Linked DNA regions of Homo sapiens: region 1 is linked to region 2. Evidence: fine-mapped expression QTL. Tissue or cell type: whole blood. Region 2 holds a variant in brackets; the other region holds the start of a gene. All regions are shown on one strand. Distances are from middle to middle. Region 1 holds the start of LIG3 (DNA ligase 3). Region 2 overlaps LIG3 (DNA ligase 3).

Evidence for each region. PIP is the estimated chance that this variant, and not a neighbour inherited with it, causes the effect.
Region 1: it holds the start of LIG3, and the variant in region 2 is fine-mapped to the expression of LIG3 in whole blood (INTERVAL, PIP above 0.99).

Annotation. Positions count from the first base shown.
Region 1 is chr17:34,974,149-34,985,101 of GRCh38, reverse strand. LIG3 (DNA ligase 3) reads right to left here and starts at 4,590. Exons shown (of 20, transcript NM_013975.4): 1 at 4,480-4,590; 2 at 1,550-2,100. The coding sequence starts at 2,096. RefSeq lists a silencer at 4,136-4,565.
Region 2 is chr17:34,999,297-35,010,249 of GRCh38, reverse strand. LIG3 (DNA ligase 3) reads right to left here. Exons shown (of 20, transcript NM_013975.4): 15 at 10,801-10,943; 16 at 10,394-10,468; 17 at 8,847-8,993; 18 at 8,146-8,341; 19 at 7,461-7,582; 20 at 507-5,977. The coding sequence ends at 5,744. It overlaps RFFL (ring finger and FYVE like domain containing E3 ubiquitin protein ligase), which reads left to right. Exons shown (of 7, transcript NM_001017368.2): 7 at 1-4,260. RAD51L3-RFFL (RAD51L3-RFFL readthrough) reads left to right here. Exons shown (of 7, transcript NR_037714.1): 7 at 1-1,138. It also overlaps the pseudogene OSTCP7. Among named protein-coding and RNA genes, the nearest start is that of LIG3, 24 kb to the right of the region's middle. The variant C/T (reference allele first, on the strand shown) is at 4,640.

The DNA of each region.
Region 1 (10,953 bases), 25 kb after region 2:
GCTGAAAGGGCTTAGAAACAGACATGCCATGGCTGGGCGCTCAGGCCTGTAATCCCAGCACTTTGGGAGGCCAAGGTGGGTGGATCACTTGAAGTCAGGGGTTCAACACCAGCTGGACCAACATGGTGAAACCCTGTCTCTACTAAAAACACAAAAATTAGCTGGGTGTGGTGTCAAGTGCCTGTAGTCCCAGCTACTTGGGAGGCTGAGACAGGACAATTGCTTGAACCTGGAAGGCAGAGGTTGCAGTGAGCTAAGACAGTGCCACTGCACTCCAGCCTGGGTCACAGAGTGAGACTCTGTCTCAAAAAAAAAAAAAAGAAGAAACAGATACCCCATGACAATGTGTTCACATAGTATCCGGGTTTTACTCTTTAATACCATTTCCCACTAACAGGATAGTGCCACTACACTCCAGCCTGGGTCAGAGTGAGACTCTCAAAAAAAAAAAAAAGAAGAAACAGATACCCCATGACAATGTGGACACATAGTATCCAGGTTTTACTCTTTAACAGGGGCATTTCCCACTAACAGGAATCCCCAGAGAAATTACCAATTTCAGGGCTGGGGAAGGATACATACGGGATAAGACTAAAAGCATCTTGCTATGCTCAAGAGTAAAGAAGTACATTAAAAAAAGTTAATGAAGGTATACAGGACACAGAGGACAGTGTAAAGGGGTTCCTAATTGGCCAAATATGGGACAATTAAGTATCAAATTAGTTAAGTACAGTAATGAATTATATGCTACAAGAAAAAAAGTAAAAGAGGATAGTAATCAGTACTCTATTCTTCCAAAATATCAATGTCATAAAAGAGAGACTATGGAAATATTTCAGATTAAAGGAGGCCAAAGAAACATGACAACTAAATGCAACACCTGATATGATCCTAGACTGGGATCCTATACTGCAGGAAAAGGCTACTGAAGGTATGACTCAATCCATTGACAAAATAGTATACAGATGGTAGATTTAAGTATTACATCAAGGACAAATTTTCTGAAGATGATAGCTATATTATAGTCGCATAAGGGTCATATATCCTATTCTTAAGGTATATACACTGAAGAATTTTAAAGGGCCATGATGTATGCAACTTATTCTCAAATGGTTTAAAGTGAGTGCACGCACACGTGTGTATGTATGTAGAGAGAGACAGCACATGAACAAATATGATAAAGCAAATAGAGTAAAATGTTAATAGGTAAATATGGGTAAAAGGAATATGAATGTTCTTTGTACTATTTTTAATCTTCCAACACTTCAGTGAGTTTAAAATTATTTCCAAATAAAACGTTAAAGGCTGGGCATGGTGGCATGCGCCTGTAATCCCAACTACTTGGGAGGCTGAGTCAGGATGACCTGAGTCCAGCAGTGCAAAGCTGCAGTGAGCTACGAATGCAACATTAAACACTGGCCTAGGCAACAGAGTGAGACCCCATCTCTAAAAGAGCAAAGTTAAAAAAAAGAGAAAGAAAGCAGTTGAACTCCTTATCCCTTTTTCTCTCAGCACCAGTAAGATGAGAAAGCAGTGTTCTCTACCTTACCTGCAATGTGCTGGGTTATCTGTTCCTTCTCATTATCTTCCAGCTCTTCCCAGCCTTCCAGCTCTGTGAGGTCCTCGATTTTTTTTGTGGTGGCCCGGGCCCGCTCTAGTTTCTCAAACATGCATTTAATGTGGTACCACTCTTTCATATCACCCCCAGACTCTGAGAAGGGATTGGGCACCACTTTGCCAATTCGGCATACGCCCTTCACAATCTTTTCCTTGCATTTTTTGCAGCCAGCTGTGCCACGCTTGGCATAGTCCACACAGAACCGTTGCTCAGCCATCTCACAGGGGCCACTGCAGAGTCCCACATGCAACCCTGGCAAGAAAACAAGGTAGGTGGCACGTGATCTTAGATGGCTTCCCTGGAATGATAGAACAGGCTTTCTTCTCAGGAAGAGGGGATGTCCATGAAGCAGATCTGTTTCTGACCACTGGCTGAATTGTCTTACATCACGCCAGTGATGTTTTCGGAATAGGCACAGTTCTTTTCGGCTGAGTGCACGGAGGGTTTGTGGAAAGAAGATCTTGAAAGCCAAAGACATATAGCTGTACGAAAGAGTAGGAGGCCAAAAAAAAAAAAAAAAGATATAAACAAGGAGATAGGCTTCCAATTTTCCAAAGGCCAGCGTCTTATATAGTCCATGATGACTAATCAAACACTTTCCAAAGTATTACATTCATAGTCTACTCTACAGCATGAAAGAGTTCTGATACAGGAAAAGCCAGCTCGCAGCAGGATGTTCAATTATCTAATGCACACATGTACATCTAGTACATCACAATGAAGAAAATCCAAATAACATAAAAGCTCTTTTTAGGCCATCAGCAACATATGATACTCATAATGGATGATGACCTTTAAGTATTACAAGATCCTGAACTTTCTTTTTTTTTTTTTTTGAGGCGGAGTTTCACTTTAATTGCCCAGGCTGGAGTACATTGGCGCGATCTTGGCTCACCGCAACCTCCTCCTCTCGGGTTCAAGCGATTCTCCTGCCTCAGCCTCCCTAGTAGCTGGGATTACAGGCATGCGCCACCACGCCCGGCTAACTTTTTTGTATTTTTAATGGAGACGGGGTTTCTTCTTGTTGGTCAGGCTAGTCTCCAACTCCCGACCTCAGGTGATTCGCCCGCCTCGGCCTCCCAAAGTGCTGGGATTACAGACATGAGCCACCGTGCCTGGCCCTGAAGTTTCGTTTTAATCACCAGTAAAAATTACATTATGTTCATGAAGTTTTTATTGTGAAGTTTAACACATATGCCATCCTCAGAAATCAAGCCACTATATAGATTTGGAATTGAGTTAGAATCCCTATATTGAGAGACAACTAAGCAGAGCCTGGAATCAGACTGCCTGAGTTCAAATCCTAACTCAGCCACTTACCAGCTGTATAACCTTGATGGGTTTCTTACCTCTGTTCCTGAGCTTCCTTATCTGTAAAATGTGGCTAATTATGGGGCCTAACTTAAAGAGCTGTTCTAAGAGTAAAACCCTTAAAACAGTTGGGCACACAGCAAGAGCTCTCATTAACGTCAGCTCCTATTATGATCGGTGACGTCGTTATCTTTCAAGAAGAGGCTTCCGATGTGCAATTAACCTGTTTATCATTCAGCAACTTGAATCAGAGAATGCTGAAGTCACTGGGCAGCAAGACTCACAGGAACTCATAAATCAATCCAAATGGAAAAAGATTATATCAGCATCTTCTTATATTCATGTTTTCTAAAGCATTTTATAGTCCTAGTTTTAAGTATACTGGAATTATGTTCAGTCTGCACACGCTGTGAAGCAAAATTGCTGTCACGTTATAATAAAAAGCAGGCTTTGCTTACTGTAGTGCAACATGATGTGAAGGAAAGCTGGTGGACCTGGAATAAGGGATGGGAGTGCAAGTCTGACTGTACAGTTTACTGACTGTTACCTCGGAGAAAACTCTTAATTTATCTGCATCTGTTTTCTTATTTCTAAAGCAGGGTAAATAATACCTACCTCACAGGGTAGTTGGGAAAATTACAAGGAATCCATGAATGCGCTGGTTGTGGGGGAGGGAGGCTGTTCTGAGCTCTCTAAAAATGTATACAAAATGTACATTCGATAAAAATGCACGGTTTTTTGGAGGAGGTCTATCACTTTCGTGATATTCACAAAGGGCTATATAACTCCCAAAGTTTAAGAACCACAGAGGTGAGGTAAGTGGAAGTACGGCAGACCCATAAAAGGAGGTCAGAACAAGTGAGTTTCAACACTTTTCCTAGAAGATCAATTTACAGAGCAACCTCTAGGGCCCCAATAATGAAAGGAGTGGACTTGAGGGAGGCTCGGGAGGCGCTGGGCCACGAGGAGGCACAATGCAGCTTTGAGGAAACCCGTCTGTCCCTCGTTCCGCACCCTCACAACTGCCGCAGCCCAGGGGCCCGAGAAGGAAATCGCTGAGGCCTGGCCGCCGCCGCTTTTCTCGAAGGGCTTCCCGCGCCGCTGTCGGAGAGTGGCGGGGACAGTGGGGTCGGCGGCGTAGGCCGCGACCCCCGGCGAGGCAGAAAGGAGCGCTCCTCCACCGGGTCCGGGACGCAGGCGGGAAGTGATCAAGGCTCCCTGAGTCCCACCCGAGCGCTCCCGGTTCAGCGCAGGAGGACGCACGCCGGGCCAGGGTACGAGAAGGCCCCGTGGGTTCCACAGGGAACACAGCCCGGGCGCCGGCCTCCCCGCCTCACGCGGCCCCGTGGGGGTCCCGGGGAGCCGCGAGCCTCCCCCTGGGCTCCCGGGAGGGCCGCCACGTCACGGAGGGTGTGCCCCGGGGCTCCGCAGGCGGGCGGGGGAGGAGCCGGGGGGCTGGCTCCCCGGCCGCGCCGAGCTCCTCGCCCCGGGCCCGCTGCCTTCCCCACGCCGGGCCCCGCCGCGCCGTGCCGCGCCGCGTAGCCCCTCACCTGCCTCTCCGGCTCCGGCGCTCACCGTAGGCCTCGGAACTTGCTCATTACAGGCCGCGGGCAGCCCACGACGGTTGGAGCGCCTGTCTCTTTAAATCCGGGTCCTAGAGCGGGAGGCAGCGCGCAGGCGCAAGAGCCAAGGCCGCGGCCACGCGACCGGTCCCCGCCCCCGTCTGCCACGTGGGTCGTAGTTGCATTCTGCCTGCCCTGTGATGTTTGGGAGTAGTTTTCAACCTGCAATCGCGGCCCGGGAAGCGGAGGTGGGGGGACGTGGCGGCTCCTCGGAACGCAGCCTGGCCTGAACTTCCGAGGCTCCCCTTGATTTTCTCATACTGTTAGAGAGGATCTGTTTTTAAAGATATTGGTGGAGAAACTATATTGTAATGAGGTCGGGGAAGGCAAAGATCGCGTCAATCTATTTTTTAAATATAATCCCTCTGTTTGTGTCCCGCAGACTCCCTAGTAAATAGTTTGTATTCAGTAGCTTTCATGGAATTGAGACGAGGCACTAAACAGCAGATAGATATAAAATGTAAAGGAGTGATGGAGGAGAAACTCCTTGATTGTATATCATTCAAAGTGTATTATCTCAAATCTGAAGCCAGCTCTTTGAGAGTTGGGATGGCGATTTTTACAAATGTAGCAGCCTGAGGGTAAGTGACCTCTTCAGAGTCTAGGAAGAGCAAACAACTGGGCCTTGTTAGGTAAGCAAAGAACAGGTTCCCGAGAGAATTCTGTGCTGTGTGATGAAGAGTGTCGTCTTTACTCTGTAGAGGACGGAGAGCCATGAAGAGTCTTAGGGAATACTGCTGAAGCTGGGTGGGGAGAGACTGAGGCAAGGGAACAAATCAGAAGGCTCTCATAGTGACCCATGTGGGAGATGATTCAGCTAGTTAGGGTGGAGAGTAAAGTGCGTTTTTGAAGATCATTTAGAATTTAAATGATCTTCTAGATAAAGTGCTCGTTTATGGATAAAATAATAATAATTTGAGTGAGCAGAAACATAATGGTACCATCAACTGAAATAGAAAATAGAGAGGAAGAGGAGGTGTTAGGGTTAGAAAGATGAGTTTTGTATTGGATACATTAAGTTTGTTTGACTAAGTTTAACTGCGATTCTACTGTTTGGAGGGGAGTAAAGCCTGCTTTTAATGCGCAGCAGAATGAACCAGGGCTTTGGTTCAACCAGGCAATTGGAAGGTCGCTGGAGACTCACGTCCTAGCTATGATAATTGAGTGATCTTGAGCACGTCTCTACAACTACATTTGCTACATTTTTTTAAGTTTCCTCAACCGTATCTGTCTTTTTCCAATGCTGTAATCACTAGCCACACGTGACTATTGAGCACTTGAATGTTGCATGGAATTGAGATGTGCTATAAGTGAAGAAAATACACACCAAAAAATTCATACTAAAAAAAGTAAAATATCTCATTAATAATATGTACCACATAATGACATTTAGGCCAACAATGGACCAAATATATGAGGGTGGTCCCATAAGATTATAATGGAGCTGAAAAATCCCTATCATATAGTGACAGCACATTACTCATGTGTTTGTGGAGATGCTGGTGGAAACGAACCTACTCCATTGCCAGTTGTATAAAAGCATAGCACACACTATTATGTACAGTATATAAAACTTTATAATGATAATAAAGGACGATGTTGCTGGTTTATATATTTAGTATACTATACCTTTTATTGTCATTAAATTAAATTAATTAATTTAGTTATTTTTGAGACAGAGTCTCGCTGTGTCGCCCAGGCTGGAGTGCAGTGCCACGATCTTGGCTCACTGCAACCTCTGCCTCCCAGGTTCAAGTGATTCTCCTGCCTCAGCCTCCCAAGTAGCTGGGATTACAGGCCCTTGCCACCACAATGGGCTAATAATTTTTTTTTTTTTTTTTTGCGACAGAGTTTTGTTCTTGTCGCCCAGGCTGGAGTGCAGTGGCAGGATTTTGGCTCACTGCAACCTCTGCCTCCTAGGTTCAAGCAATTCTCCTCCCTCAGCCTCCTGAGTAGCTGGAATTACAGGCACCCGCCACCACGCCTGGCTAATTTTTGTATTTTTAGTAGAGACGGGGTTTCACGATGTTGGCCAGGCTGGTCTCAAACTCTTGACCTCAAGTGATCCGCCTGCCTCGGCCTCCCAAAGTGCTGAGATGACAGGCATGAAACACTATGCCCAGCCTTATTGTTATTTTAGAGTATACTACTACTTATTGAAAAAAAAAAAGCTAACTGTAAAACAGCATCAGGTAGGTCCTTTAGGAGGTATTCCAGAAGAAGGCATTGTTATCAGAGGAGATGACAGCTCCACGTGTGACATTGCCCCTGAAGGCCTTCCAGTAGGACAAGATGTAGAGGTGGAGGATGGTGATATTGATGATCCTGACCCTCTGTAGGCTTACTAGGCTAATGTGTGTGTTTCTGTCTTGTTAACAAAAAAGTTTTAAAAGTAAAAGGAATTTTTTTTAATAGGAAAAAGCTTATAGAATAAGGATATAAAGCAAAAATATTGGCTGGGCACAGTGGCTCACATCTCTAATCCTAGCACTTTGGGAGGCTGAGGCAGAAGGAGTTCAAAACCAGCCTAGGCAACATATTTATAAGAAATAAAAATATTTATTTAAAAAAAGAAAAATATTTTTATACAACTGTGCTGTTTATGTGTGTGGTTTTATTAATTTATTTTTTTGAGATGGAGTTTCGCTCTTGTCACCCAGGCTGGAGTGCAATGGCACAATCTCAGTCCACTGCATCCTCTGCCTCCCAGGTTCAAGTGATCCTCCTGCCTCAGCCTCACAAGTAGCTGGGATGACAGGTGCCCACCACCACGCCTGGATAATTTTTTTATATTGTTAGTAGAGACGGGGTTTCTCCATGTTGGTCAGGCTGGTCTCAAACTCCCAACCTCAGGTGATCCACCCACCTTGGACCATTTTCTTTTATACCTTTGTGTGTGTGTGTGTGTGTGTGTGTGTGTGTGTGTGTGTGTGTGTGTGTGCTGTGCTTTGCCTATGTTTAGAGACACAAATACTTACCATTGTGTTATAGTTTCCTACAGTATTCAGTATAGTACATGCTGTATGGGTTTATAGCCTAGGAGCAATAGCCTATACCATATAGCTTAGGTATATAGTCAGCCATATCATTTAGGTTTTGTAAGTACACTATGATATTCCCATCACAAAATCACTTTACGATGCATTTCTCAGAAGGTATCCTGTTGTTAAACAACTCACGACTATCCTATCTTTATGTTAATTATTTATTGAAATGATTTTTTTGGATATGTTATGTCAAATAAAATATAGTAAAGTTCATCTCACCTGTTTATTTTTACTTTTTTGAAAATGTGGTGACTAGAAAATATAAAACTGCACGTTTGGCTTACACTACATTTCTGTTAGAGTACACTGCCTTAGATTTCAAACCTACATGTAGAGGGTGGCATCTGTGCTATATGCTCAGTGCCTAGAACAGTGCTGGGCACATAGTAGATACTCAACAAATATCTGTGAATAATGAATGAAACTCATGAGTGAATGGAATGAATGAATAAAACTCTGGAAGTGATAAGATCCCTTAGAAGGATGTTTATTATATCATAACAATATTTGATATAAACTTGCAAAGACTTAGGCTGTAAATGATTTTTGCTTGATGAGAGCTCCCTGAACCCCCTGATTCTCTCTGATTCAGGTCCCCTGCTGTGAAATAGAACTAGGTACACAAGAAATGGAACTAGGTACGAAAGCCGGCAGTTGCACTTCTTTAGAAAAGTGGGAACTGGCTGGGTGTGGTGGCTCACGCCTGTAATCCCAGCACTTTGGGAGGCCGAGATGGGCGGATCACAAGGTCAGGAGTTTGAGACCAGTCTGACCAACATGGTGAAAGCCCATCTCTACTAAAAATACAAAAATCAGCCAGGTGGTGGCGTGCACCTGTAATCCTAGCTACTCAGGAGGCTGAGGCAGAAGAATCGCTTGTACCTGGGAGGCAGAGGTTGCAATGAGCCGAGATCGCGCCACTGCACTCCAGCCTGGGAGACAGAGCGAGACTCTGTCTCAAAAAAAAAAAAGAAAAGTGGGAACTACTCTACCAAGGAGAATGAGGCAAAGTGTGGTAGGAAGAGCAGGGCTTTGGATTTGCACAGACAGGTTTGAATTATGTTCCACTACCAGCTGTCTGTAACTTTCATCTATTTTCTTAACTTTCCGGGTCTCAGTTTTCACCGTGAAATGGGGATAGTTTTACATTTAGGTCCCGGATCAATTTTGAGTTTATTTCTGTGAAGGGTGTAAGATCTATCTAGATTCAATTTTTGCCATATGGATCCCTTGTTGATCTAACACCATTTCTGAAAAGACTGTTTTCTCATTTGTATTGCTTTTGGTCATTTGTCAAAGATCATTGACTATATTTATGTGAATCTGTCTGTGGGCTGTGTATTCTGGTCCATTGGTCTATTTGTGTGTTCTTTGACCAGTACCACACTGTCTTGATTCCTGTAGCTTTATAGCAAGTCTCAACTTAGATAATGTCAGTCCTCCAACTTTGTTCTCTTCCTCCAATATTGTGTTGGCTATTCTGAATCTTTTGCTTTTTCACATAAACTTTAGAATCAGTTTCTAAAGCCAATATCCACAAACTAAGTTACTGGAATTTTGATTGGGATTGTATTGAATATACAGATTACATTGGAAAGAACTGACATCTTGACAATATTGAGTATTTGTATCCATGAAGATGGAATATTTATTGATTAGTTTGTCTTTGATTTCTTTTATTAGAGTTTTGTAGTTTTCCTCATACACCTCTTGTACATATTGTATTAGATTTATGCTTAAGTATTTCATTTTTGGGTTGGTGGTGAAATGAGGATAAAAATAACTCTTGGGATTGTAGGTGCCAATTAAATGAGATGACTGATGTCAGCTTGCAAACTGCTTGGCACTTAGAGGCATTTCAATAAATGTACATTCTCCTGCACCACCCAGCCTGGATACATTCATACCACTACAGAGTGTAATCACTCAGTCATTGATTGGTCAGTCAAGTATTTATTGAGTGCCTACTCTGCATCAGGCACAATTCCAGGAGTGTAATACAGTAGCGAAACAAAGCAGACAAAAATCCAGCCCTCATGGAGCAAACTAGTGTGGGAGATCAATAACAAACAGGGAAGTAAAATGTATAAGGTGTAAGAAGTCAGTGGGTGCCATGGAGAAGAAGAAAGCAGAGGAGGGTGGGACATGCGGGGTAGGGGCAGGGTGGCAGTTTTAAATAGAGGTCAGAAAGGCCTCACTGACAAGTAACAACTGAGAAAAGATTTGAAGAAATGAGTCAGCCTCATGCAGATTGAGGGTAGATGGAGCATTAGATAAAGGCTTGGAGGCCAAAAATGTGACTGTCATTTAGGACAATAGCAAGGAGATCCATGTGGCTAGAGCAGCTGGAGTTAAGGTTGAGAAGAGCAAGGAGACAGATCCTGTAGGGTCTTGTAAGACATTGCAAAGACATTGGCTTTTATTCCAGGTGAGAAGGGAAGCTAGTGGATTGTATTGAGCCGAGAAGTCATGTGATCTAACTTAAGCTTTAACAGGATCACTATCACTCTGGTTGTTGTGTAGAGAAGTTGGGAGATGAGTCAGGTAGCTATGTTAATAATCTAGGGGAGAGATGAAGGCAGCTTGGGTGGTAACAGTGATAGTAAGAAATAACTGAGGCTTATAGACCCCTAGGGGAACTGTGGATGGGCTCAGGGGTGTCCTTGAATTTCCTGAAATTTTATATAAACATTTGTGTGCATGGGCATTTTTGGTGAAGAGCTTTTATGGAGTCTCAAAGCAGTTTTATGATCCAAACAAGAACTAAGCTGGTGGTGAATAATCAGGATATCTCATGCTTGTTCCTAGCTATTCAAAGTCCTCAATTAAGTTCTTTCCACAGATGTTGACTGTAAATCCTCTACGGCATCTATCCTGTTTGTGAGCCTCTTAAGAGTTTTGACTGTCTCCTTTAAGTCTGTTCTAACCCTGACTTCCAGTTAAGACTCATCAGAATTGTTACAAAGAAAAAGAGCCATAAGGAAATGGGTAGATTCTGTTCATGTTCTATGCTACTAACTGTGGTAGTTTGGGAGCCACAGGCAAGAATTGGGAAAAGGCTTGACACTGTCCTAGAGATAGTGAGGGGCACTTGTGAGGCTAGTCTGTTCTCAGTGGGTTCCCTTTTTTAATAAGCTGTGGTCTATGAATCACATAAACCCCAGCAGCAAGAGCTGATTTTATGGGTTGGTTTGCTTAATAGTCACACAATTCAAATAAGTTGTAAAAAACGGTGCTGGTATTTGCCAGGATAAATATTTAAAAGGGAATAGCTGTAGAAAGATATAATAATTCAAATCAGCTCATCGTTCTTCATTCTCAATAAAGGCTGCGGAGGTTGGTTCTTAACCAGGGG
Region 2 (10,953 bases):
CCTTACCCCTCCCATGCAGCTGAAAAATCTGAGACTAGAACCAATCATGACTCTGGATGGCAGAGGGAAACCTCTAAAGGGACTTATTACATTGGTACAGACATATTTATGCTTTCTTCCATCACCAACCACTAAACCCCTTTGGAGGAATGAAATAACTGCATAAACTAGTCAACTGAACACTGGGCCACTTACCTCAATGTTATACAAAGTCCTGGATGATTTGATTCTGAACCACAGCCTTTGCAGGAGTTGGGGGAATCAGATTTGCTCATGAAGACATCCCTTTCCACTTTTGTCATGGGCAGTAAATACTATAGTTTACAATGCCTACCAATTAGCAAAGGATCATTCATTCAGCTACTCAGTTCCTCTGTAAAACAGGTCTATGTATGTGCAATTCAGCTAAGATCTAGCAGTAACTTAAGGGCAGAAGCTGGCTCTCTACTTACAACCTGCTTTCTCTGCTGAAGCCTTACCTCCTCTTCAGTTTCCCTCCTAGACACAAATCGAAAATAATATACTGATAGCTGGTTAGTAACCTCAGTAAGAATTAAAACTGAGGTTGTTTACTCATTTTGCCTTTAAATCTTTTATCCCCTTTTGGTGAAGGTTTCCCTTTAGGAAAAAAGGTGTCAAACAACCCTGATTTTTTTTTTTTTTGCATCATTTTTATTACACCAAATTAAAGTTGGGAGTTCCAAGATCCCATTCCAGTTAATATTTAACCAAGGTCTAAAATTTGATTTTTTTTAAATCTTTGAATCCTCCCTTCTGCCCCTCATGGATCCTTGGTTTTAATGATATGGAAACATCTAATTCTTAGAATTATTCCGTAGCTTTTGCTGATTACTCTGAGATTTCAGTTAAGACTTGTTTCAAAAGACAGATAGCTGACTGGTTCATAATACATTGGAATAGTTGGATCCAAACTAATAAGAATAAGCTGTACAGGAACTAGTGCTCAATATACATTGTATAAATTTGTGGAAATCTCTTGGATGTGAATTGTTACTTCAAGTGGCTTTTATTAAGATTTTCTCAGACTTACTTGGAGGTTAAAGCAAACCCAAATGTGTATTATTTTGTTACAGAGCTCTGCTTTATAATTTTGTAATAAAGTTTCAATACAGACACCTGTCCTGTCTGGTGCGAGGATGTTAGAGGTTGATAGGACTGACAAAAGAGCCTGACAGTGGTTCATGCTATAATTTCCACACTTTAGGAGGCCAAGGTGGGAAGACTGCTTGAGCTCAGGAGTTTGAGACCAACCTGGGCAATGTAGTGAGACCTTGTCTCTACTTAAAAAAACAAACAAGGGCCGGGTGCGGTGGCTCACGCCTGTAATCCCAGCACTTTGGGAGGCTGAGGCGGGCAGATCACGAGGTCAGGAGATCGAGACCACCCTGGCTAACACGGTGAAACCCCGTCTCTACTAAAAATACAAAAAATTAGCCAGGCGTGGTGGCGGGTGCCTGTAGTCCCAGCTACTCGGGAGGCTGAGGCAGGAGAATGGTGTGAACCCGGGAGGCGGAGCTTGCAGTGAGCCAAGATTGCGCCACTGCAGTCCGGCCTGGGCGAAAGAGCGAGACTCTGTCTCAAAAAACAAAACAAAAAAAAACACAAACAAAAAACCCAAAAAAACCAAAAAATTAGCCGTGCATGGTGGTGCATGTGGGTAGTCCCAACTACTTGGAAGGCTGAGGTGGGAGGATCACTTGAGCCAGGAGATTGAAGCTGCAGTGAGCTCTGATCGCCACCGCACTCCAGCCAGGGTGACAGAGTGAGACCCTGTATTAAAAAAAAAAAAAAATTGACAACTGATAAACCACAAGCTAATCCTGGGATGTGCACATGGCCTGGGATTAGCCTGTGGTTGGGCCAAGTGACCTTGGTCAAGATGCTCAGTGTTGTTGTAACTAACTAACTTGCTCAAGACCACAAATGTAATATATGGAAGAGGCCATGGAACAACCTAGAAGAGAATGAGAGCTGGGTAGGTAAAGGATGAATCCCAAGACCAATTGGGTTGAAGCACCAAGTGAGTTCAGATATTTACACTGATCTAGAAGAGATGGGCCTTAAAGAACTGAAATCTGAGGACAGTTAGTATGCCCAGTTAGGTCTTCAGGTTACCCTGGGAGATACATGGTACCTTTTGGATACAGCTGTAGTACAGCTGGACTATGGCTCAGAAAAGGTTGGCCCAGGCTGGGCGCCATGGCTCACGCCTGTAATCCCAGCACTTTGGGAGGCTGAGGTGCGTGGATGACTCGAGGCCAGGAGTTTGAGACCAGTCTGGACAACATGGCGAAACGTGGTCTCTACTAAAAATACAAAAACTTAGCTGCGAGTGATGGTGTGTGCCTGTTTGTTAAGTCTTAGCCACTTGGGAGGCTGAGGCATGAGAATTGCTTGTGAACCCGGGAAGCAGAGGTTGCAGTGAGCTGAGATTGCACCACTGCACTCCAGCCTGAATGACAGAGCAAGAGTCTGTTTAAAAAAAAAAAAAAGGTTGGCCCAGCCTCGTGACAGACTGCTGTGTGTGCGCAGGCTTGTACAAACCTCCCTGACCAGGCGCCCAAGGAGCAGGGAAAAGACTACTGAGAATGCAGCCCCTGGGAGAACAAGATTATGTGTCCATCTGCTGTGACTGAGAAGAGAAAGGAATCTTGCCAAAAGGGCATAAAGGATCGAGGATGAGCCACAACACTTTGCTCACATTGCCCTAGGGAGCTGACCTGTTCAGCACCCAGTGATGACCTCTGCTTGATGCCAGCCAGCAGCATGTAGAGGTTCAGAAGAGGGAGGCCTCCAGCATTCTGCTGGAGAGATTTATGATGATGATGTTGAGGGCTGCATTGAAATACATGAAAGAAATACATGAAAGGATACAAAATAGTATATACAGTCAGATCTCAGCAGCAAAGACTGGAAGAAAATACATAAAAAACCACTGACATTGAAATGGCAATAACACACACTAAGGCAGAGAAGGGACAAGATGATCACCTGCAGCCAGCAGAGGCCCTTTCCTGTGAGTGTGCACTCTGGGTGTAAGCAACCAATAAGGGCAAGTGGGGCTGGGTCCAGGTTGGAGAGGACAGTGCCTTTGGCAGGATCCTGAGGAGACAGCCTTGTTCTGCTGCCCTGTCCGGTTGTTTGTTTGGCCTGAGGCTGAAGAGAGAAATGGAAATCTATGTAGGTCAGTACTCAAAGGAGGAGCAGCTTTTTGTCTCCATAGAGGATGGAATAAAAAGTATCTTATTCCTAATACTGAAGCAAGGCTGAATGGTGCCTATTCAAAAACACCAAATGTCCTGGGCTAGAGTCAGGAAAGTAAACCCCTCCCCCGTGCTGTCCCTACTCCCCCAACATACACATTTTAAACAGTAGGTGGAAGCCAAAGTCAATCAGATCAAAGTTGGGGGGGGGCGGTGGGGTGGCCAGGGGGCGCAGTGGTCCTTGATCTTATAGGTCCAGAGCCTGTTAATTTGTTCATAAGGTGAGAACTGACCCTCAAGAGCTGGAAGGATTGGGACATGGCAGCCAGTTTACAACCATATGGTGTCCTGATGAGCCTGCACTCAGAGTGGAGTGTTGGCTGGAACATGCACACCTGCAACTGAGGGTTCTAAAGTCATAGGTTAGGCCCTTCTCCCGGGTAGGGTCTGGACATGCACACCAGGAGTGACGTTCCCAACTCTAGATAACTATGTGCTAGGCTCTGGGCTAAGTGCTTTACATAATGTTGCTCAGGACAACAGGACAACCCTATGATTTAGGTGCACCCATTCTACTTGGAGGGATTGAGGCTTAGATGTTAACGTAACTTGCCTAAGGTTAGAGCCATTAAGTTTCAGGAGTCTGATCTGAACTCCGTCTACACCTGCACTGTCCAGTGTGGTAGTCACTAGTGACATGTGACCATTTGAAGTTGAATTAAAATAAGAACTTCAGTTCCTTAGTTGTGCCAGCTTCATTTCAATTGCTCAGCAGCTGTCTGTGGCTAGTTTGGTTGGATACTGCAGATTTATGGATATTTCCACTGCTGCAAAAAGTTCTATTGAATAGCACTTGTCTACACTAAATTGTCTCTCTTCCTTTTGTTCTTCAAATAAATCAGCCTCAGGTAGCACAGGAGCTGTTCTTTGTAAGCAGGTTGTATGGATCTGTTCTCAGGTGTGGATTTTTATTTTTTTCCCTGCAGATATGGAGTATATTTTCTTTAAGAAATTAAAAACTAAGAAGAAAATGCCACTCAACATTGTTGGTATTATCAATAGGTCAGCAGGAAAAAAAAAAATACTGTGATAAACTTGTCTCTCTGATACCAAGAAGAAATTCTAGTCCGAGCTTCAATATGCTTCCTGTTTTTTTCGCTAGGTATTTCTTTTACTGCTGCTCTTCATTCTTTCCCACATTTCATATTGGAGGATTGGTACAGCCTTTAGAACTTCATTGACAGGAGCAAATCCAGTATCCACTGATTTCTTCTTAAAGGCGCTCTAACCCATCAGATAGCCCGGCAGTTTCATTCACATGAATACTCCAGCCATGAAAAAACTCAGTAGGACACAGACGAATCCAATGAATAGAAGAAAAAAAATCGATTGAGTTTTGGGATATTTGGTGCATT[C/T]GACTGGTCCAGCATTATGAAACCTAAACCTCCCATTGTAAACAGGAAGCTGGATGCAAATCCTTCCATAATATACTGTCCATTTACTTTGTAGGCCAAGAAAGCTACTGGCCTCTGATGCCCACGTTCATCAGCCAATACTTGGGGGTTCAACAATATCATATAATTATTCCTCCAGTCATGAGGAAGTAAGACACCACCACCAGAGCATACACAGTCATGGCTGATGGCATGTGCAGCCAGGGTGGCTTCTTCAACTTCAGGTTGGAACACTCGAGCACTAAGAATGGGATATGGTACAAAGTCTCCATGTTGGTGGCAACAAGGGCTGTTCTTGGCCTCAAGCCCCATGTGGATTTTTATTCTTAAAGAACAGTCTTGTTTCCAGGTTTTGGGGATGCAGATCTTCCTGGAGCCCTCTATCCCTCCAGAGGAGTGGCCCAAATAACCTCCCCTTTCTTCATAAAGGCCCCATTTTCCTACCTGACCCTAGTCCCCTCCCTTCAAACTGGGGATCCTCACCATGTAATAGGAGAACACAGAGAAGAAAGTAAAAAAATTCATTTTGTTTTCTTTCACATGAGGTTTGTTCCTGGCAAAGCGTGTCAGGCTGAATACAAGTTCCGCTAAACAGAAGCATTTCCGAGGGCAGTCCTTTAAATACAACTTTAAAATGAGCCTGGAAGTACAAAGGAACAGGCAAGGATGGGAGAGAAGGCTTTGTGGACAGAGCTGCCATAGCCCAGCCTTTACTCCTTAATCTCTAGGGAAATTATTGGGGGTGTAGGTGGGGAAAGGACAAAGATAACTGCAAGATATTTTATTTATAAAAAGGGTAACTAAGCTGCTTTTCAAAGAAAACAAAAAGATGGCAAACCCAGCACCCAGCTCTGAAAGATCTATTTAAACCAGCAAGACAAACTGACTTCAGCTGTGGCACCCACAGCAACTAATTCCTGGTCCAGAAGAGACAGTGGAGAACTGGTGGGTTTGGGAGAAGCAAGCCCATTCCCCCTATACTGTGTCTATCTGCCTCCAGCCTGAGTCCAGTCCAGTAGTATGGTAAAGGAGAGTATGGCCTGAGGGAGAGGGAAGACAGCAAACCTAGCAGGGAGCTACCAGTCTCCGTTTCCGGATACATGCCCAAATCCACTCTGGGGAGACCTGCTGGGCCGCAGGGTTCTTGTCCCTGCTACCCAGCACGTGCGTGGCTGAAGTCATATCAAATTCCTGTACCAGGTCCCCGTCGAATGCCACAAAGTAGCGTCTGAGACGGCTGAAGTCTGGTGTGGAGGGTGGCAAGTAAAGCCGCACCCCAGTGAAGATGTCCAGCAATACCTGCAAATGCAGAGGGGTCAGGGTGGGGTCAGACCTACACTGGGTACAGATGGGTCTTCACCCAAATGAGCACGGGACAGAATGAGGGAGCCTAGAGTTAGGACACAAGCAGAGAAGTTTACTGGAATACCATGCATCAATACCCCCACCCCTCCAGTCACTCCAAATTATACAGGACTGACACGCCCCTCCATCCCTGCCTAGGGGAAAAGGAGAGTGGACAGGCCTCGACATCTGGGACCTGGAGATGGGAAGAGTACATGTGTATAAGAGCCACCCAGTCATGGTGGGCAGGCGGAGCTGGCTCTGACTCAGTGCCCCCAGACTCAGTGATGTCCCCTGAGACCAAGCAGTCTACTCTGTACAACCTGCTAGACTGAGGGGTCAGGAGTCCTGCTTACTACTCTCAATGGGTTCAAGGACTTCAGGCTGGGAAGAGAGAGGGGAAAGGTTTCTACAGGTCTGTTGGGGACCGAGTTCAGGCCTTGTGCTGTGAGACTTCTATGCTTACTCCTGGATGGCGGTGGGGAGCGTGGGGGCGCAATGACATGGGTGTCAATCATATGTTTACTTCTCTATCTGTCCTTTGAGGCATCAGCTCCCCCAGAGTTGAGCCAGTACTAAACCTAGTTCTTGGCATCAGAAAGTGCTCAAAAGAGGCCGGGTATGGTGGCTCAGGCCTGTAATCCCAGCACTTTGGGAGACCAAGGCAGGCGGATCACTTGAGGTCAGGACTTTGGGACCAGCCTGACCAACATGGTGAAATCCCGTCTCTACTAAAAATACAAAAATTAGCCGGGCATGGTGGCACATGCCTATACTCCCAGCTACTCGGGAGGCTGAAGCCGGAGAATCGCTTGAACCTGGGAGGCGGAGGTTGCAGTGAGCGGAGGTTGCAGTGCGCTGTGATTGCACCACTTCACTCCAGCCTAGGCAACAGAGCGAGACTTATCTCAAAAAAAAAAAGAATTGCTCAGGAGATGTTGCCAAACCCAAGACTGACAAGAAAATGTAACAGGGAAAAGGCTCCTCAGGTGGGAGGAGAGTCACCAAGCCAGTGCCCTCTCCCCGACTCGCTGCTTGCTGGACCTGCTTCCACCCTGACCACAAACTCAATGCTGCATTCCCACACCCAGACTGGTCTTTTCCCTTTAATGTAAATTTTGACTTGGGGCCAGCAGCTGAGTGAGTCCCTGCAGTCTCTCCTGGCTAGGCCGGGCTGTTCTATCTCCTGCCTGCTGGCACAGTTCTTCCTCTCTGCTCACTGGCTGGCCGCCTCTGCAAGGCAACAAGAGGACATAGGGTGAGCAGCAGCATTGCTGACCCTGCCCACGACAGAGGAGTGGCTGCAGGCAGGGAAGAGGTTTAGCCGATGTTCCCCAAACACCTTTGCTCATCCTCTTTCAAACTTCTTGTACAGAAGGTTGGGAACACAACCTGGGCTAAACTGGCCCACGTGGTGTGTTGCTGTTTTTACCCTCACCTTTGTTTGGCACAGCGTCTCATCAGCAGCTTTCCGCTTCTCCCCTACTTTCACTGGAGAAGACTTTGTGGCCAGCTTCTCCCCCACCTTCATAGCGGAAGGCTTTGCAGTCTGCATGTTGCCTGCAGGACAGAGAGGAAGCTGGGTGTGGTGGTGCACACCTATAGTCCCAGCTACTCGGGAGGATCAATTCAACTCAGGAGTTCGAGGCTGCAGTGAGCTATGGTCGTGCCACTGCACTCCAGCCTGGATGACAGAGTGAGACCCTGTCTCTAAAAAACATATGATACAAAAGAACTAAGAGGGTAGGGATTGCTGATAATGCTCCCTGAAGTCAGGGGCAGTAATGGGAAGGACCAGGGGCTTTCTCTGCTATGAGCATAGGTGAGAGGGGAGTGAAGAGTTATCAGCTAAGCCCTTTACTCAAAGGTAGCTTATTCCCTGGTCAGACTGGCTGTCCCCAGGGTACTGCTCCATTCAGGTTTGCTGAGCAGATACAGGGTGCCCAGCAGAAGGGTCTCTGGCCCATGGCTGGACACACACCAGGAATGTAGTCTGTGTCCACTGCAGTGGACACAGATAATCATGAGATCTCAGGGCTGGAATGTGAGACTGGGTCCCTGCCCTTGGATCTCTGCCCCTCACACCGCCCTCTTCACCATACCAGCCCCCTCCCTATCCTTACCATCTTTGCTGTTGGAGTTACTCAGCTTCCCTTCTGCTTTCTTGGTACTGGCTGAGGGCTTGCTGGGGGCCTTGCGGGACACAGCAGACCCTGAGGGACCCTTATTCTCTTCACTGCTACCCCCTGTAGTGGAGCTCCCCTCATCTCCAGCCACTACAGTGAAGTCTGCCTTCTCCTTGGACAACTGGTACAGTTCCTGAGGCGGGGAGGGACAATGTCAGAGGGTTTCATTGCCTTCCCAGTCTGGCCTCAGAGGTGGTGTGTGTGGTGTATTTTAGGCGCATATGGGAACAAAGATGTGAGAAAGATAAAGAGCAAGGAAAAGGAGTTGGCTCCCTTGGCACCATTCCAAAGTATGGCCCTATAGCCTGAGTAATCAGGGTACAAATCATTGTTCTCTGTACAGCAAAGCAGGCTTTGCTGGGGCAACAGGAGCAAACTCTTATTCCCCAGACTAAAGGCTGCTCAGTGGGGCCTTGCAAATGCAAGGTTCTCTACTCAGAGATGGAGGGAGAAGGAGGTCTAGTGCTGTGCCCCTGGCCCAGCAGCAGTTTGTCTCCCTCTCTAATTGCCCTCCTTGCTCTGCCTCAGGAGAATGGGGGAAAGGAGAAGACAGAGGACATGTGAATGGTCTAGATGCCCAAGGCTCCAAGGCCTGGACAGTGGGGTGGAGAATACATATACAGCCTAAGAGCTGCTACCTTGAGTTGGGGAAGGTTAGTGGCAGATTTCCAGTCCTTATCATCTCGGATTCGGGTGCAGCGAGGGAATCGGATGGAGATCCCGTCAGCTGTATGAGCCTCCGATTTGGAGAATTCAGCCCCTGTGATCTCCCACACGGCAGCTTTCTGTCAGGAGTAAGCCAGCAGGTCATCACTGGTTAAGAAGATAGTATCAGTGGCCGGGCGTGGTGGCTCAAGCCTGTAATCCCAGCACTTAGGAAGGCTGAGGTGGGCAGATTACTTGAGGTCAGGAGTTTGAGACCAGCCTGGCCAACATGACGCAACCCCGTCTCTACAAAAAATAACAAAAATTAGCCAGGCACGGTGGTGCACGCCTGTAGTCCCAGCTACTCAGAAGGCTGAGGTATGAGAATCGCTTGAACCCAGGAGGCAGAGGTTGCAGTGAGCTGAGATCATGCCACTGCTCTCCAGAACGAGACTGTCTCAAAAAAAGGGAGAAGCAAGTATTGGCCAGGCGCGGTGGCTTGCATCTGTAATCCCAGCACTTTGGGAGGCCAAGGCAGGTGGATCACCTGAGGTCAGGAGTTTGAGACCAGCCTGGCCAACATGGTAAAACCCTATCTCTACTAAAAATGCAAAAATTAGCTGGGGGTGGTGGCACCCCTGTAATCCCAGCTACTTGGGAGACTGAGGTGAGAGAACTGCTTGAACCCAGGAGGCGGAGGCTGCAGTGAGATGAGATCATGCCACTGCACTCCAGCCTGGACAACAGAGTGAGACCCTGTCTCAAAAAAAAAAAAAAAAAAAAAAAAAGTATCTCCCAACCAGCTAGAAGCAATACAGAACAATTAAAACCAAAAAGGCGGCTGGGTGCAGTGGCTCACGCCTGTAATCCCAGCACCCTGGGAGACTGAGGCGGGCAGGTCACCTGAGGTCAAGAGTTCAAGACCAGCCTGACCAACATGGAGAAACCACATCTCTACTAAAAATACAAAATTAGCTGGCCACGGTGGCACATGCCTGTAATCCCAGCTACCTGGGAGGCTGAAGCAGGAGAATCACTTGAACCCGGGAGGCGGAGGTTGTGGTGAGCTGAGATCCCGCTATTGCACTCCAGCCTGGGCAACAAGAGTGAAACTCCGTCTCAAAAACAAAACAAAACAAAAACCAAAAAAGCTTTGGCTAACAGCTGGGAAACTTGGGTCCTAGTTCTGCTGCTGCTGTTGCTGAATAACCTTAGGGAAGTCCTGTTTGTTCTCTAGATCTCTTTCTTGGTCGGTACAAGAAGGGATTGGGCCAGATTACTTCTAGAACACACCCTTTGTGCTGAGGGGATAGGTACTCTCTTCTTCTCTCTCTTTTTTTAAAGCAATTGTATTGCAGAAAGAATTCTATTCAAAATTCCTCAGAGTTGTCTGGTTGTCCCTGTGCCTATCACTCAGCTGGAAATCCAGACCCCTATCCCTGGGTGGACTTTCAGCGAGGTGAGATGGATTCTCTATGGCACTAGAGAACCTGCAAGCTAATTCTATGAGCTGGAGGCCCCCAAGCCACTGGGTTGATACCTTTGGGTCTGGGACGATGAAGTCAGGATAGTAGATCTTGTTGACCTTCAACCAGCTGGGTATTTTGCTGGGGTCCTAGAGGAGAAAAGATGCTACTTTGGGCTGTTCCCAACCTGGAACAAGGCTTAAATCCCTTCTCTTGGTAATGAGATTATAAGAAGCCACTTAAACAGCTGATGTTTGAGCCATGTGATCCTCCCAGCCCAGAGTGGGTATGACCTAGAGGCATGCAAGCCATTTTCCACAAGAAGGCATTCAGAGATTATAAGGCCTAATCCTGCTCCCCTGAGCAAGCTGCAACCCTTCTTTCTGGGGAGACAGAAATACCTGTAGTCCCCAAAGCACAGCCTCTGTCTCAGTGATGGCGGCCAGTCCAGAGGCCATGGCCAACCAGGTCCCTTCCTCACCTTGCTGATCTTCACCATGTCTAGTTCATTCTGCAGGCGGGCAAGCGTGGCATCATCATGGCCTCCTGCACACTTGGTGACTGTGCACCACTTCTGGCTGCCAGGGTCGTAGCAGCCCATGAGGAAGATTGACATCATGCCGCCTGGGAGGGG